Linked DNA regions of Homo sapiens: region 2 is linked to region 1. Evidence: fine-mapped expression QTL. Tissue or cell type: putamen. Region 1 holds a variant in brackets; the other region holds the start of a gene. All regions are shown on one strand. Distances are from middle to middle.

Evidence for each region. PIP is the estimated chance that this variant, and not a neighbour inherited with it, causes the effect.
Region 2: it holds the start of FRRS1L, and the variant in region 1 is fine-mapped to the expression of FRRS1L in putamen (GTEx, PIP 0.99).

What each region holds. Positions count from the first base shown.
Region 1 is chr9:108,331,986-108,340,092 of GRCh38, forward strand. The region is part of intron 2 of LOC105376214 (a long non-coding RNA gene); the gene reads right to left. Among named protein-coding and RNA genes, the nearest start is that of ACTL7B, 520 kb to the right of the region's middle. The variant G/A (reference allele first, on the strand shown) is at 4,516.
Region 2 is chr9:109,162,705-109,170,807 of GRCh38, forward strand. It overlaps FRRS1L (ferric chelate reductase 1 like), which reads right to left and starts at 4,545. Exons shown (of 5, transcript NM_014334.4): 1 at 4,197-4,545. The coding sequence starts at 4,434.

The DNA of each region.
Region 1 (8,107 bases):
ACATAGAAACCTAAGCAAAAGATAAAAACAAGATTAATTCCAAAGGCAACAAAATATTGTGCACGAAAAGTAATCACACAATACTTCATGCTCAGATATAAATCATTTTTATATGGCCATAAAATTATATTGAGAGAATGCGGGAATGAGAAATATGAATAAAGGTAAATCCTCATATACAATAATGGGGAATCAATAGTCATACTTAAAATGATTTTTACAAATCAAGATGTAGCAACATAAGCTTGATTTAAATACATGAAAATATATGCTAAAAGATTCTATTAGAAGGGTTGCAAGTGGTGGCCTCTGTGTGCAGGAACATAGGAGCAGAGGCTTTTCATAGAAATACGTACTTGTGTAGCTTTGATAAAACAGAACCTAAATTTCTATTACATTCTGGGCTTCCAGATATGGAAAATGTTAGGGTCTGGCTCTTACTCTATTTTCCCCACCCCATTTCAAAAGGGCAGCCAGGGTCATTCTCTTGCCTACAGTCAATCTTCTCCCAGGCTCTTGGCTTCCAAAAGTGAGACCTTCAGAAAGCTTTGCTGAGGAGATTGGAGCAGTGAGTGCCTTTGAGTGGAGAACAGAGGCTCACAAAAGTATAGAGGAGGCCGGGCACGGTGGCTCACGCCTGTAGTCCCACCACTTTGGGAGGCCAAGGCGGGCGGATCATGAGGTCAGGAGATCGAGACCATCCTGGCTAACACAGTGAAACCCCGTCTCTACTAAAAATACCAAAAATTAGCCAGGCGTGGTGGCGGGTGCCTGTAGTCACTGCTGCTCGGGAGGCTGAGGCATGGCGTGAACCGGGGAGGCAAAGCTTACAGTGAGCCGAGATTGCACCACTGCACTCCAGCCTGGGCGACAGAGCGAGACTCCATCTCAAAAAAAAGAAAAAAGTATAGAGGAGAGAGGATTTCTATAGCACAAGAGGTGATGAGATCTGAGAGGTCCTGTGAGTGTCCTGTCACTGGAGCTCCTAGGCAAAGCAACGATTTTGGAATCAAGCTTGCTATGGAAGCTTCAGATCTCCCCGAACTAAGATATTTTGTGGACTTGGATGATGAGAACATCAACAGTGCCCATGAGAGCCTGAGGAAATAGATCTCAACCCCAATTCCCCAGCTCCACTTAATAGTCTAATATTTCCTTGACATTCTGTGAATTACAAGTGTTCTATATAACTATGGTATTAGTGTCATTATTACTAATTATAATACCAAACAAGAGGGCTGAATAGTTTTTATTTAGTGACCATTAAACCTGTTTTAGAGAAAATTCTGCCTGCCTATATATAATCTTCTGGACTATCTTGTACCAGAATATATTAATATATGGCTAGCAAGAGTCACGCTCCACTTCATCAGCTCTTATTCAGTAAGTGGAATGATCAAAGAAAAGATTATCATGCCCCTGAAAACAACCTGGATATTTATCAAATTTCCCATATTCCTGGATTTGGGGCTTTGCACGTGTTTTCCTGGCTTCCTGAACCAATCTTACCCCACTCGCTGAAGAATTGCAGCTTCTCACTGCAGCTTAAATGTTACCCTATACCTAGGTTTTCCAGGACCGGAATCACTCTGTCCTAAGTTCACTGTTGCTCTCAGCTGAGCTACTCAACATGTCAGACAAGCTCTAATTATTTTGTGTATTCATTTATCTCTCTCCCTACTCAAAAGCCATTTCCAGGCAACCAAAGGCCTTGCCTGTCCTTTTCACACTGTATCCAGGGACTTGGTAGGTGCTCAATGAATATTTATTGATTTTAAAAGTAAATGAGTTCACAGCTAACAAAATGAGGTAACCTCCTGATTTTCTGGTTGTATTTCAAAGTTCATAGTTAAAATGTCAATAGTGGTAGCTGTCTTACTTAGTTACCACAAGCATGTGACTGAGCACTCTGTTCTTTGCATACTAAAAGAAGCAGTTGAACTTTAAAGCCTACTATACAGATAAGAGCTCCTGTATCCTAGACTATGCTTTCCTAAATTCCAAAACTGAGAGCCACAGTGTTCATCATTCACCATGTGCCAGCCATTCTGCCAAAGTAGGAATTGATAGAGCAAAGAGCAAAAATATGAATAAACTATTACTATCATTTATTGAGCTTTTGCTGCATACAGGGTACTTACTATATTTGTCATCCTCAAAACAACTCTGAGAAGGAGCTGTTTCTTTTTTAATCTGACTCTAAAACAAGAAAACAGAGACTCAGAAGAGTCTTGTCTGAAGAATACACAGCAAGTAATTATCCGAGTGTTGAAGATGAAAACTCAGGTCTGTCACTTCTAATGCTGGTGCTCTTTCCACCCTAAAATGCCATTTCGAGAATCTACATTTGTACCTCTTCACACAGGATCAAACTACAGAAGCTAAAATTGTGCCATTATAACAACACAGCCCTTTTATAAAGAGAAAAGCTAGGAAACCAATTCCTTTAGTTTGTTGTCAAGAAGTTTAAAGAAATATTTTTGCTCATGGAGCACTTACACAATTTTATATAATGATTCTGAGAATCATGATTCAATCACTGAGGTTTCAGCATAAATCAAGAGGGAAAATGATAATAAATGTCTGTGAGCTAATAATGGAAAACTACTAAAGTCTTCAAGAGATTACAGGTTAGCAGGAAAAGATGTGAAATGTAAATGACACTTCATTTACTGTAAGAACAAGGAACAAATGTTCAGAATAATTTCTTTCCACCAAGAATTCCTAATGAAATGTTGAGATCAATGTCTAGCAGGGTATTGAAACAGGACATGGAATAGATGTTAAAATAAGTCAAACTGAATGAAGTAAGTTAGAGGAAACAGAGCTACATGATTCTTTGTCTTTGATTTCAAGAACAAAGAATTACTTTTTTTTCTTCTTTTCGAAGCAGCAGTCTTTTATTAGTCATGATGAAAATGTCAAATTCTTCAGGTAGAGTTACAGCTCCAACAGGTGTTGGACAAAAACAAAAATAATCTCCCTCTAAAAAACCATAATAATAATTCTTAAAATTTTCTCTCTTAATTTTCTTGATAAACCTATCAGAATAACAATTAATACATTAAATTTCAAGTGTGTATATAAATTATTATTCTGATAGGTATATCAAGCAAATTGAGAGAGAAAATTTTAAGAATTCTTTATTCATTATAATATATCCTCAATTTTCTATGTTAAAAAATTATAATCACATTTTTCTAATTATAAAATACATGCTCATTATTTGAAACTGGAAAAATAAGAAGCCCTCCCACAATCCCATCAACCATGTTTTTGTTTGTTTTTACAAATAAAAGTATGTTTACATGTTACTTATGTCATACGTACATGCTCAATTTTAGAATGCTCATAATATTTTCTCTACTCTGTGCTTTGGGTGGTAAGTAGGGTGTTCCAGGAAGATACTGATTTTATGTAATTATTTCTTGAATTAAGGCGGATTTTATTCAACATATGGTTGTACATGATTTGATTCACATGGCTTTGTAAAGTTTCTCATATAAATACATTTGGGAGTCTTTTGCTGGATGTTTTCATATTGAGTTCAAAAACCATGCTACTAAAATCCTACAACTATAATCATACTGCCTGTGTTATCAGAGACACCCTCTTGCTGGTCTTATCCAGCAATACATAAGTTTAGGCTATAGAAACTCCCTTTGGTGACACCCCACCTCTCAGCACTGATCCTTTTCTCATTGTTCAATAGCCATCCACAGAAAAATTGATTTTAGATTCCTGAATTGTGACTCTCTGGGAAAAGCAAGTGGTTACCTTTGTGCAGTCTTCTTTACTATCATTAACAGCTTCTCATGATGTCATAACCCTTAGTCTTTTTTTTTTGACGGAGATATATAGGTACCCCAAACCTTGGAAAAGAGGGACCATCCACAGAGGGCACTTTCACAGCTCAGCAAGGTCTTGGATGAAGTTGGAGAGAGTCATTCTGTTGAGCCTGCCCTCCTTTCTGTGGGCACCCAAATATGACCCTCTCCTGTCTGGCACCACCAAACTCCACAAGGTAACTTCTCCTCCTTCCCTCCAGACCATGCCCCAGCCCAGGAACTCTTCTCCAGAAGTGAGACAGAGAACTGTTTCAAATTAACTGTGTGGCATAAAGTTTGCACCATGCTTCCCTCAAATCTTCCTTTTGGGTATCAAAAGCCCATTTTGAAGGTCAAAAAACAAAAAGAAAAAGAAAAGCTCGCTGGTATTTTTCACCCTTTTAGTCCTGCTTCCCCTGGTGGAAAGGCCAAGTGCAATGGGGTAGAGAAAGGAAAGCACAATGGTGATATTCCAAAACGTCGTCACATCATTATCATTGAATTATCTGTCTGCTCTCCAATGAGTGTGGGCAACTTGAAGGCAGAATCTCTATACCTGAGGCCTGCACCCCAGTGCTGAGTGTCACTTCTAGAACATTGCAGCCTCAGGAACTCCTCGCTAAGTGGACACACATGTGAGCTATTACTATTTTTGATTATCAGATATGGAGATATTTGACTGCAATAC[G/A]TGGTATTCTTAACAACTTCCAACAGTGCAAAGTTTCAATCAAGCAGAAAAACAGTTTACTTCCAACTGGAATACTGGAGTACCTCGTGTAAACTGTTGAATTAAACAGATTTATGATAGTTCTGCAAAGTGAAAGTTTATAAGGTGTTTTAAAGAAACTGATATCACAGACCATATAATTTCCATAGCATTTAAATGTAAGACTGTAATTTCCCTGCATCTGATGATGATGTAAGTGCAGGCATTGAACACTCCGCCTTCCACCCTCAGACACATGAGATGACCAGTGGATATAAAATTAGGGAAAAACCAGCATCAGTGTTGGAAAGTAGGAAGGGTGCCATACATATGCCTGCCACACCAGGGAGTATATATTTCATGTAGGCTGATGGTAATGAACCTAAGATACCATTCAGACTCTATTTATGATTGTCCCTGTGACAAAGAAAGTGGCAAGGGAGTGGAGGGACCTAGACAATTTATGTCAGACCAATTAATTTGAAAAGGGTAAAAGAGATATTGGAAAAGGAAAATCCAATGATCAAAATGCCATTCTGAGGCTAGGCTTTTTCTTAAGCCAGGAAAGCTTCCAGAAGAAATTGCTCACAAGAGAAGCAAGAGACCACTATAAGATTGGAAGGCCACCCAAACAGGGCCACCTTGGGGATCCTAGGTAAAGAAAAGATACTGCAGGTCCAAATAAGAAGATCATCTTGAAGAGACAGAAATGCTTCTTTTGAAATAATTACTCTAACAAATAAGCACACAAATATGCTAATTTGCATCTCAGAAAGATTCCAGCGTTTTTCTGAACCAGTCACTGATAATAGAGTCATCAGTGGAAGAAAAAAAGGAAAAAAAAAAAAAACAACCGTAATTGTCCACCAAAAGTTCATGGTTCCCCTTCCATGATTATTCTGGGTGCCACCTGCCCCTTCCTTCAGGGTACAGCTATATGAACAGTTCTTGCCAAAGACACATGAGCAGAAGTGAAGATCTCTTCTGAAATGGGGTTTTGAAGAAGAAAGTGTGCCTTCCCCACCACATATTTCCATTTTGGCTGGCTGGAGAGGGAGGGCTCAGGGGTCCTCAGGGATGGAAGGAAACTGAGACCCTGAATCATCACATGAAAGGAGAAAAACTTCTGTTTGTTAAGTTGAATGTTGGGGGACTGTTGGTGTGGTAGATTGCTTAATGGCTGCAAATTCCTCCCCTCCCAGGCTACCTGCACCTTTGCGATATGACTTTGCTGCACCTTCTGTCCAGAAGTGGAAGAAAACTGCCTGGCCTCATGACTTGTTTACACCAGTGGAATGTGGCAGGAGTGACATTGTGTGTGGAGCTCAGGCCTTGAGCTCCTGACCTCACCTCTTGAAAACCTTCCCTTCACCAAGTAAGGAGACTAGGGAAGTTAAAAGAATGGATAGAGAAAGACGCTGTGACATCCAGTACCAGCCCCAGACTGTGTGTAAGGCCACTTTAGACCCCTAGCCCTGTAAGCCACTGATGACTGCAGCCATCAGAGTGAGCCTAGGAGAAACCAGAAGAACTACAGAATTGTAAACCTCAGGGGAAAATAGCATTTAAAAATACAATAGAGATAAGACCTCAGCTAGTCATAGATGCCCCTGTGTTGCAAACTTCCAGAAAAAAAAAAAAATGCGGTAATCTCTGGAGTATTTTTAGGGGAAAAGATGTGACAATAGATTCTATAACTAAACAATTACTCTGTGTAATGTGGCTGACAAAAATTGTACCCAAGGATATAAGACATGTTAATTATATCATCTATATATGCTTCCGGGAAGCATATATGGATAAAATTACTTGAAGATTTAACCAAGACATAAACCAAAATTTTAAAATTTAAATTGGAGGTTGTGGCCAAAAGCCTCAGTGGTACAAATGAAACTAAATAAAGAGTTGTTTAAATAACTATAAATATAGTTTCATAAATTAATACAGATGGTTTTAACAATTCTTAAAAGAGAAGCTGTGTGATGAAAATGATAATCATTTGGGCCAGAGTCACAAATTACTATCAATAAAAATTAGAACATGTGGGAAAGCTCTAGACAAGTATATTACATTACTTACACAATGGAAATAAGTATAGTTTAATTTTCAGCATCACCAATTAAAGAAAATATATTCAAAATTTTAAAGAAATTAAAGGAAAAAAGACTAAATAAAAAGATTGCAACTTCTATTTTTATTACTAAGACTTTTTAAGCAATGTATACTCACTTTAGTGATTTCTTAATAAATTGTATATAAATATATGTACTATTGTATATACATGGATATGTGCATATATTATACAATAAAATCATTAAAAAGATGAACTTGAAATAACACTAGTTTAAAATAAATTTATTGTATTTATTAACAACACAAACAACATTTTTCTTTCTTTCACTGAAATAATAGTAACATTCAGTGAGAGCAGAATGTTTAAATTTTTCAATGTTTTTGAAACTGTTGGTTACATATCTTGCAATATAGCAACCCAAAGGTATGATTCTGGGTCAATTTTTATTTCAAACTTGGTTTTCATGGCTGTAGTAACTGAATAAGATCCTTCACAGAGAGAGAAACGCAAGGGAAAGAAGTGTGTCATTGGCTGTACTTAATAATCATGACATTTATAATCGATTCCACCCATCAATTATGTAATTGTTCTTGTTGAAATTTGGTAGTAAGTTTCCATCTTCCATGATCAATTGTTCTTGAAAAGGAATCAGTACATGTTATAGTTTTTTGCCTCAACAAAGGGTTTAAAATTCTCTAAAAACTTTCAAAGATTATAAAAATTCTATTTTAAATCCTTTAAGTGTGTTGATACCACAGATTATTTTTTATAGGTGTAACATTTCTATCGTTTTCAGCAATGTATCACATAGCAATGGAAACACTGAGAAACATTTCCAAACATCCGTTTTGAAAATGCTCTCTATTACCTCATAATGTGGCTGATGGAGCACTCCTGCCAGGAAAATGGAAAGCATTAGCTGGGCCTTTTGGGGTGGGGGTGGGAGGGAGGGGGTGGGGAGACAGACGGGTTGTCATTATTGTTCTTGTCTGTATCATGGGCATTACTTTTAACCTGCTTCTTTTTTTTGGAATTATCTTAAGATTCTTGTAAATTTTGACAGCTTACATAAAAGCAAATTAAATAACTCTTAAATCCACCTAACTGGGCACACAAACTTCAGTGAGTCAAAAGTTTGCAGAATGTAAAAGTGTCATTGTCATTCACCCCCACCCTCTGGAAATCACTCCCTTCCACCTTGCTTACTATCAATAAACAGAGAGCATCTGTCTTACTTGTGGACCTGCGTGAAGAACCAGTGACAATTTATATTAAATGAGTCAAGTTTAATATCAATCTTAATTTTGAAATGTAAAAACTAGTATTTCCTTCTGGGACTCCAATTAATGTTCTATGCATTCCACTTTGGAGAACAAAGCTATAGCAAATAAACCAGTATGGAAGCATTATGGAAAGAAGGCTGCAGAAATGAGACCAAGTGTACCAATTGTGACAACAAATACAAATAATCAGAAATTAAAACTTAACTATAGAAGATAC
Region 2 (8,103 bases), 830 kb after region 1:
TACCCTTAAAGGACTTCCAGATTAGTAGAGTGGTAAGTTATATATCCACATACCGTCCAAGGTAGATGGGGGAAGGATATAGGAAGATGACTAAACTTCTGCCCTTTGCCCCATGTTCTGTCCTTCTTTCTACCTCTCTGGCTCTTTCCCAAGAAAAATTGTGATCAGAACTCAATGGTCAGAAAATCCTTGATTGAGCCACATTTTACGAGTAGTCAGATGACTATGCCTTAAAGATAAGTGACCATAAATGATGTTCTGTCTTTTCCTTCTTAGGCAGGGTATGGCTCCAAGGGTCAGGCGGTTAACATCATCCATGTAGCTGGCTGGATTAAGACTGAGGGTCTGCTTCCCAAACCTGGCCATCTTAGCAGCAGGGAGAAGCAAGCTTCATTTGGGACTTAACCCTTAGCCAACATCCAACTCAGTTTTGTTTGTTTTTCCCCAAAGAACCCTCAGAAGTGAGCATTTGCCCATAATCAAATGGTAATCTGTTTCACATTCTATCATTGCTCTGAATATATAGACTCTGGGTTAAGAACCTCAAGGGAAAGAAGTATGAGTGGTAGGATTCAAGCACTAAGATCCTATCTGAACTCCTGACCATAGACAGCAAAGAGGGTCACGGCAGACTGTGTGCTGTGGAAGAATATCTTCTGTGGGAGAAGGAGAAAATCAGGGAAGGCTTCCTGAAAGAGGTGACATTTGAGCTGAGACTGTAAGCATGAGTAGTATAGGCTTAGACAGTGGGACCCTCAAAGAATTCTGAACACTAGCATAACTTAAGTTTTTAAAAATGACCATGTTAGGGGGTGATCATTTTCTTGAGACAGCAAATTAGCCAGCATCCTGCCTCTGGATTTGAGGGTTTTGGGCAATCTGGATACTGGGGAAATAGTCTCTGGGTAGGGTAGGTAATGGTCAGTAGGCTCTCTCTCAGTTTCAGTGGATTTCCATTCCCACCTCCACTATTCAAATTCCTTTTTTTCTGATTTTTGAACTCAGTTTCATGACTATTTGAGACATAAGAAGGGGGTACCCTGCACAGAGGGAACAAGTAGCCTAGTCACTAGAAATGGACAACCTCAAGTGTATTGATAGAATAAGTCAAAGGCATTACCGGCACTTCTTCACTTGCCACGTCCTCCAAGGTCAGTCAGGTTCCCTCCTTCCTTCTCCACTGAATCTGTCCTAGGAGAGTTCCACCCATAACCTCTCATCTCCTGAAACCATCGATAATTTTGAGCCTTCATGCTATCAGGCCACACCTTGGTAGGAAACAGGCTCTTTTCCTTTGCCTTCTGGGACACCCCTCTCTCCTGGTTCTTCTTCCCTCTCTCTGGCAACCCCTCCTCAGCCCCCGCTTTTAAGGCAATGTCACTGTTTATTTCTAAGCGTCTTGGGAAAGTCTCTATTCAGGACCCACAGGGATGAAGCCTAGGCCCAGGGTAATCTAGCAGAGGCACTGCCTCTGATAGCCCCACGCCACTTACATCTCAACTAGCACCCACCGGATGGTGGTAGAATCTGTATGCAAAGAGGAAATGAAACTGTCAGAGAGAAGAGGGTAGGAGAAGAATGGAGAGTAAAAGCTCAGGGTGAGGGAAGGGGAGATATGGTTGTAAAAGGAAGTTGAGCCAGGGAGGACATTTCAGATAAAGCAGTTGAATATTCATTCAGGGAGCAGGTTGATTTTTTTTTTTTTTTTTTGAGACCGAGTCTCACTCTGTTGTCCAGGATGGAGTGCAATGATGCAATCTCAGCTCACTGCAACCTCCCCACCTCCTGGGTTCAAGCAATTCTCCTGCCTCAGCCTCCTGAGTAGCTGGGATTACAGGCGTGCACCACCACGCCCGGCTAATTTTGTATTTTTAGTAGAGACGGGGTTTCACCATGTTGGCCAGGCTAGTCTCGAACTCCTGACCTCCTGATCCACCCACCTCAGCCTCCCAAAGTGCTGGGATTACAGTCGTGAAGCACCACGCCCGGCCCCATCACAGACTTTTGAGTGCAATGCCAACAGGTTAGAGGCAGACTTCAGGAGGGTTAAACCAGTTTTATGTGCAGAATGGTGGGGGCGCGAAGCAGACACACTAGGGATCGGTACAAAGCCCTGCTGCCTGCTATGTGATCACCTCACCTAAATGCCTTCCCTCTTCTGTGTCACTGAAGTCTTTCCTACTTCATGGCTTGACTCTATAAAAGCTGTCCTTGATGGCTGTGGCCCACCTGATGTCCACATTCATAAAACTTTCTGGACTATACAATGAACATATCATTCTCTCTGCAGAGAGACTCAAAGGACGTACAGAATCTGAGCTTATCCTTCATTTGTTAGATGCATGAGCCCAATCAGAATACAAGTTCTCACATACCACATTTAAGTCACCTGGCAGCACTAGGCTGTGTACAGTGTAAAGATACATTAGATGCTTTCAGAAACAGACGGGCTTCGGAATATTTATTCTTTTCCAGAGTGACAGATTCCGCCACATGGCTCTCCAGCTAGAAGACTACATTTCTTAGTCTCCCTTGAAGCTAGGTCATTGTAACTATGTTTTTGCCAAAGGAATGTGAACAGCAGTAATGTGGGCAGCCAGCCTAAAAGGTAACTACTTGCCCTGAACTTCTCTTTTTCTTTCCCTCAATCTTGAACAAGGACATGCAACCTGGCTTCTACTGTACTGATGAGGACAAAGCCTCAGGGGGATGGCAGAGCAACAAGATGGAAAGAACCCGGGTCCCTGAATGACCTTGCGGAACAGAGTCATCCCACCAGCCCCAGACCAACCAGACTCTTATCAGAGAGAAAAATAAACTAGCTTATTTAAACCACTATATGTTAAAATCTCTAATTCAGCAGTTAAGCCTCTACTTAATACATTTCCCCAAATCCATTCTCTCCATCTTCTTTAATACAATAATTCTGATTTTTGAACTGGGCATATTATGTCTCAGCTAATAGGCTCTATTTTACATCCTCCTTTGTACCTATGTGCAACCATATGATTAAGTTGTGGCCAAAGAAGTATAAAAATTGTTATATGAAACTTCCGAGTAATCCCTTTATAAAGTAGTCAGTGACCTTCTTCCTGCTTCATTTTTCCCACTGTCTAGAATGTGAACATAATGGCTGTAGCTCAAGCAGTTATTTTGAACCATGAAGTTACATGCTAAGAATTGTGAAGAAACAGAAGGGCAGGATCCAGAGACACTGGTGACCAAGGAGCCTCCAGACCAGTTCTGGATTACCTATTTCTAGTTTTCTTTCTGTAAGAGAGAAACTTCTATCTTGTTGAAGCTATTAATGTTTGCTTGTTGTATACAGCTGAACTTAATCCTAACAACAGACACATCCACTAACAGATATGAGCTCCTGGGACTCAACACTTCAAACCCCAGCTTGATGGTTGGATATCCCTCTTAGCAGAAGAAAAGGAAAGTCACTACTTCCCAAAGTTGCTTAAAGAGGCCAGTTTCCATTCCTTCTGACCACCATCCGCTTGGCTTTTGTGCTCGTTGAAGCAGCTCTACAGGGAGGCCCTTGGCTGACAAACTCCCAGTCTGCGGGCCCAGCAGGCCACAACAATGGTGGCTCGCACTAGGGGACCATAACATATGTGGCGTCATAAAAGAGGAGGGATGGGAGTGGGGAGGCTGATGTGACCCAGCTCTGACGGGTCAGTGAGCAGGAACAGAATGCTACGAGGTGGGCGCTGGTCACTGCAAATTTAAGTCAATACAGACAGGGAGGAAATAAGGCAACCTCTCTCTTTAGGTTGGGGTTTTTCTGCTTCCCCCTAGCTGCCCTGGCCAGATGGCGGCCTCCTCCCCTATAACCCAACCCCAGGCGGCAAAGGTGGAAGCCAGATCTAAGAACTGGGGGAGCTTAGACTCAGCACCCACCCCTATCCACAGCCTTGCAGAACTTGGATGACCCCTCCCTCTCCCAGCCTCACTCTCCCCATCTGTAAAGCGGGCGGCAGGCATTGACAGCTCTTTGGGCCTTTCCTCCAGGCCGGCGGAGGCCTGGGCACTGCGCTCCCCATCCTGGCCTCGCCTCTGCAAGAGCTGCCTCCACGGACATCTTTTCCGACCCCCTCCCCCTCCCTCGCCCCCTCTCCTCGTTCCCCCGATCCTCGGTCCCCCACCCCCGGTCTCCCCTCCCGCAACCCCTCGCCCTCCCGCAGCCTCACCCTCCTCCGACAGGTAGCGCAGGTCGTAGAACTCCCCCGCGAAGGTGCCGTAGGAGGAGTCGTGGCGCGGCACCGCCTCGTCGGCGCCCGTGTCCCCCCGCGCGCGTCCCCGGGGTCCCCGGCCCCCCGGGCCCGCACCGTCGTCCGCGGGGCTGGCTGCGCAGGCGGCGGGCCCCGTCAGTAGCAGCAGGAGCAGCGACGCCCAGACCCCCGGGTGCTGCCGGGGCGGCCGCGCCATCCGTGCGCACAGATCCCGCAGCCAGGCCGCTCGGGCCGCAGCGGGGGCGCCGCGGGCGCGGGCCGGGACTGAGCCTCCGCCGAGGCCACCAGCACGCGCCCGCGCAGCCGCGGAGCCTCCCGCACCCCCGCCTCCCTGCCTCGGTCTGCGCATCCTCGCTCCAGCACCGCAGCCTCCCCCTTCTTCTTGGAACCCCCCTCCTCCCCGCACCGATCTCTCCTTCCTAGCAGCTTCCCTTCTACCGTCCTTCTTTCCATTCTCCCCATCTCCCCGACTTCCCTCCACGCAGGCAGATTTGGCCCTTCTGGCCCCTTGCTACTCCGGAGTGTGGTCCGCGGACCGGCAGCATCAGCATCACCTGGAAGCTTGTTAGCATCGCTGAGGCCCCACTCCAGACCCATGAAGCGGGATGTTCATTTCATCAAAATTCCCAGGAGATCCCAATGCACGTTCAATTTATGAAACGCTCCTCTAGAGAGTTTACCCTGGACACACCTGGTCAGTGCTGCCTCCTCAACCTTGTGCCGGCACTTTTTGGTTTACATAAAGCACTTGCTAGACCTATTATTTCTTGGATCATCACAGAAGGAACTTGAAATTGCAAGACCCCCACAATAGAGCTAGGTAAACTGAGGTGTTTAGAGACAGAGAAAACTGGATTCACCTGCTTCCTCTCCAGGCTCTTGCGGTGTGTAATCAACAGAGGCTGGTGCCAGTAGGTAACCTGTTCCCCTTCAAAACTAGGCTTCTGGTTTACTCTCTTTCCCTGCAGCAAGCACGCGCAGGCCTTGGAAGGCCCACACCGTATCTGAGGGCCATGCTGAATTGTTGATTTTTCTCAAATCCATTCCTGCTGCTTGCAGTTCACTTTTGGCTATTTACTCAGCCATCCATTGATTCACACCAAGCATTTGCTTTATGGCAGGTCCCAGGGTTCTCTTTTGATGATGGTTGTTGGGGTGATATATTCGAATTGCTAAGCTGTTTTCCATCAGAGAGGCGGACGCAATTCCTTTCAGGCTGGTGTTGCAGAGCCAGCATTTTAACCTGCTTTTCCTATTTTATTATTTTATTTTATTGCATAAACAAAATAATTATGGAGGCAGAAAAGCATAGAGGTCCCAAATGCAGACCTAGAAGTCAGACTGCCTGATCTCTCATGATTAGTCATTGACATGATGCAATGAAGATTAGGGAAGATCATAGAGGTAAGGATCAATAGGGTTCAGTGCTGTAAGTGGCATGCACACATGTACACAATATTGTGAAATGTTAATATTCAAAAGGAAACTAGTGATCTTAACCCTTTATGGCCTGATTGGCTGAGAGATAAGGGTAGTGCTGTTGAAACAGGGGAGACATGATGGGGGACTTAGAAGTCAGGTATTTTCTATTAGGTATCAGCTAACAGTGGGCTGTCCAACTGGAATTTAAACATATTAATCCTGATGGCTGAATTGAGGTGTAATTCATGAAAACCTTGGGCTTCACTAGGTCCCCCAACATAGCAGTTGTCACAAAAAATAGATCAGATTATTTGAAAAAGGTAAGATGAACTATGATTACTTTAAAAACTCAAGAGACTTCTTCCCAAAAAGCATAGCGTGGCAATGCATAACATTCTAAAAAAGCTGATCCAACAGATTGAAAATCTGTTAAAGTGTAGTCCTTCAAAAAAAAAAAAAAAAACAAAAACAAAAACAAAAACCTTAAACCTTTCTTAAAAATTAAAATTTCTTTATTTTCTTTTCTTCTCTTTCTGTTCACCAGGGAAGGTATGGTCAACTTAGAATGGACCAAAGTTTAGCCAAAAAAATAAAGCATTAGACTTTTGATTTCAGTGTAGATTCTCTGGTTTGGGAATACAAGCTTTTACCTCTTACTTTCCTTTTTATTCCCTTCATTTTGGTTACTGAAATTAACAATAACGGTGCCCAAATAGAAGGCAAATGAAAACCAGGCCATTCTTCTCCGAGTAAATTAATCTGATATAAAAACACGTGGGCAGCCGGGCACGGTGGCTCACGCCTGTAACTCCAGCACTTTGGGAGGCCGAGGCGGGCGGATCACAAGGTCAGAAGATCGACACCATCCTGGCCAACACGGTGAAATCCCGTCTCTACTGAAAATACAAAAAATTAGCCGGGCATGGTGTCGGGCGCCTGAAGTCCCAGCTACTCGGGAAGCTAAGGCAGGAGAATGGCGTGAACCTGGGAGGCGGAGCTTGCAGTGAGTCGAGATCAGGCCACTGCACTCTAGCCTGGGCGACAGAGCAAGACTCCATCTCAAAAAACAAACAAAAAACAAACAAAAAAACAAAACAAAACAAAAAAAACCACCACCACGTGGGCTTTCTATATTGTTTTTATGGGGGTATTTGGGTATTTTGGGGACGGTTTACAACTACAGCCTAAAATGAAGTTTGCAGGTAAACTGTGGATTTCAATTCTCTCTCTACTCATGTAGACTCACAGGGGGCCACAGATAGGCTTCAGGGGTGATATGAGGACCTTATGAAAGTGCTGGAATAATGTTGTGATGTATGGGTTTTTCTAGGGAGAAAACCCATAGCTTTTTTTATGAATTATTTTTTCCATGTTCAACTTTTTTTTTAATTTACTTTAAGTTCTGGGATACATGTGCAAAATGTACAGGTTTGTTACATAGGTATACATGTGCCATGGTGGTTTGCTGTACCCATCAACCCGTCATCTAGGTTTTAAGCCTGCATGCGTTAGGTATTTGTCCTAATGCTCTCCCTCCCCTTGCCTCACCCCCCACAACATGCCTCGGTGTGTGATGTTCCCCTCCCTGTGTCCATGTGTTCTCACTGTTCAACTCCCACTTATGAGTGAGAACATGCAGTGTTTGGGAAAACCTATAGCTTTTATGGGTCACTCAAGCCTTATGCCTTTTCAGGGCCCAGCAACCTATTCGGCTCCTTCCATTTCATGAGATTCTCTCCCATCCACTCAAATTGCCTTTGGGGATTTTCTTTCTCTTCATGTTTTCTGACACGATTTAAGTCCTGGAAAGAGTGGAGGCAGACCTATTCCAACCTTAAGCACATGCTCCCCTCTTAGTTACATCCTAGGTTTGCAGAGACCCTCTGTTCCCCACCAATGTGACTCTACAGAACAGCTAAGAAATATTGTAGTTTCCTCTACTGTGCAAATTTTCTGGGGAGGAACTTTGCCTGAACATTCTGAGACCACTGGCTGTACAAGAGCTGGCCACTCAAACAAAAACTTAGAGATGAACCAGATTTAAATTCATTTTCATTTTAAAAAGAAAGACAGTACCTTTATTTTCTCTCCACCTCAAAGCAATTTCTCTGACACAACCTTTTTTGCGATTAAAAACTCCCAAAATCATTGCTGCATCTTGGTATCTGATGAGTAACCGATTTGCCCAGGCTTCTGACTGTCTAGTATATATAATTTTTCACTTTGGATTTTGTAAGAAATAAAAGCTGTGATTGTGGCAGTTCCTTAGAAAGTTAAACATGGAGTTTCCATTTGACCCAGCAATTCCAAGAGAATTTAAAACAGATGTTCACACAAAAACTTGTACACAAATGTTCATAACAATATTATTATTATTATTTTCTAAGACGGAGTTTCACTCTTGTTGCCCAGGCTGGAGTGCAACGGTGTAATCTTGGCTCAC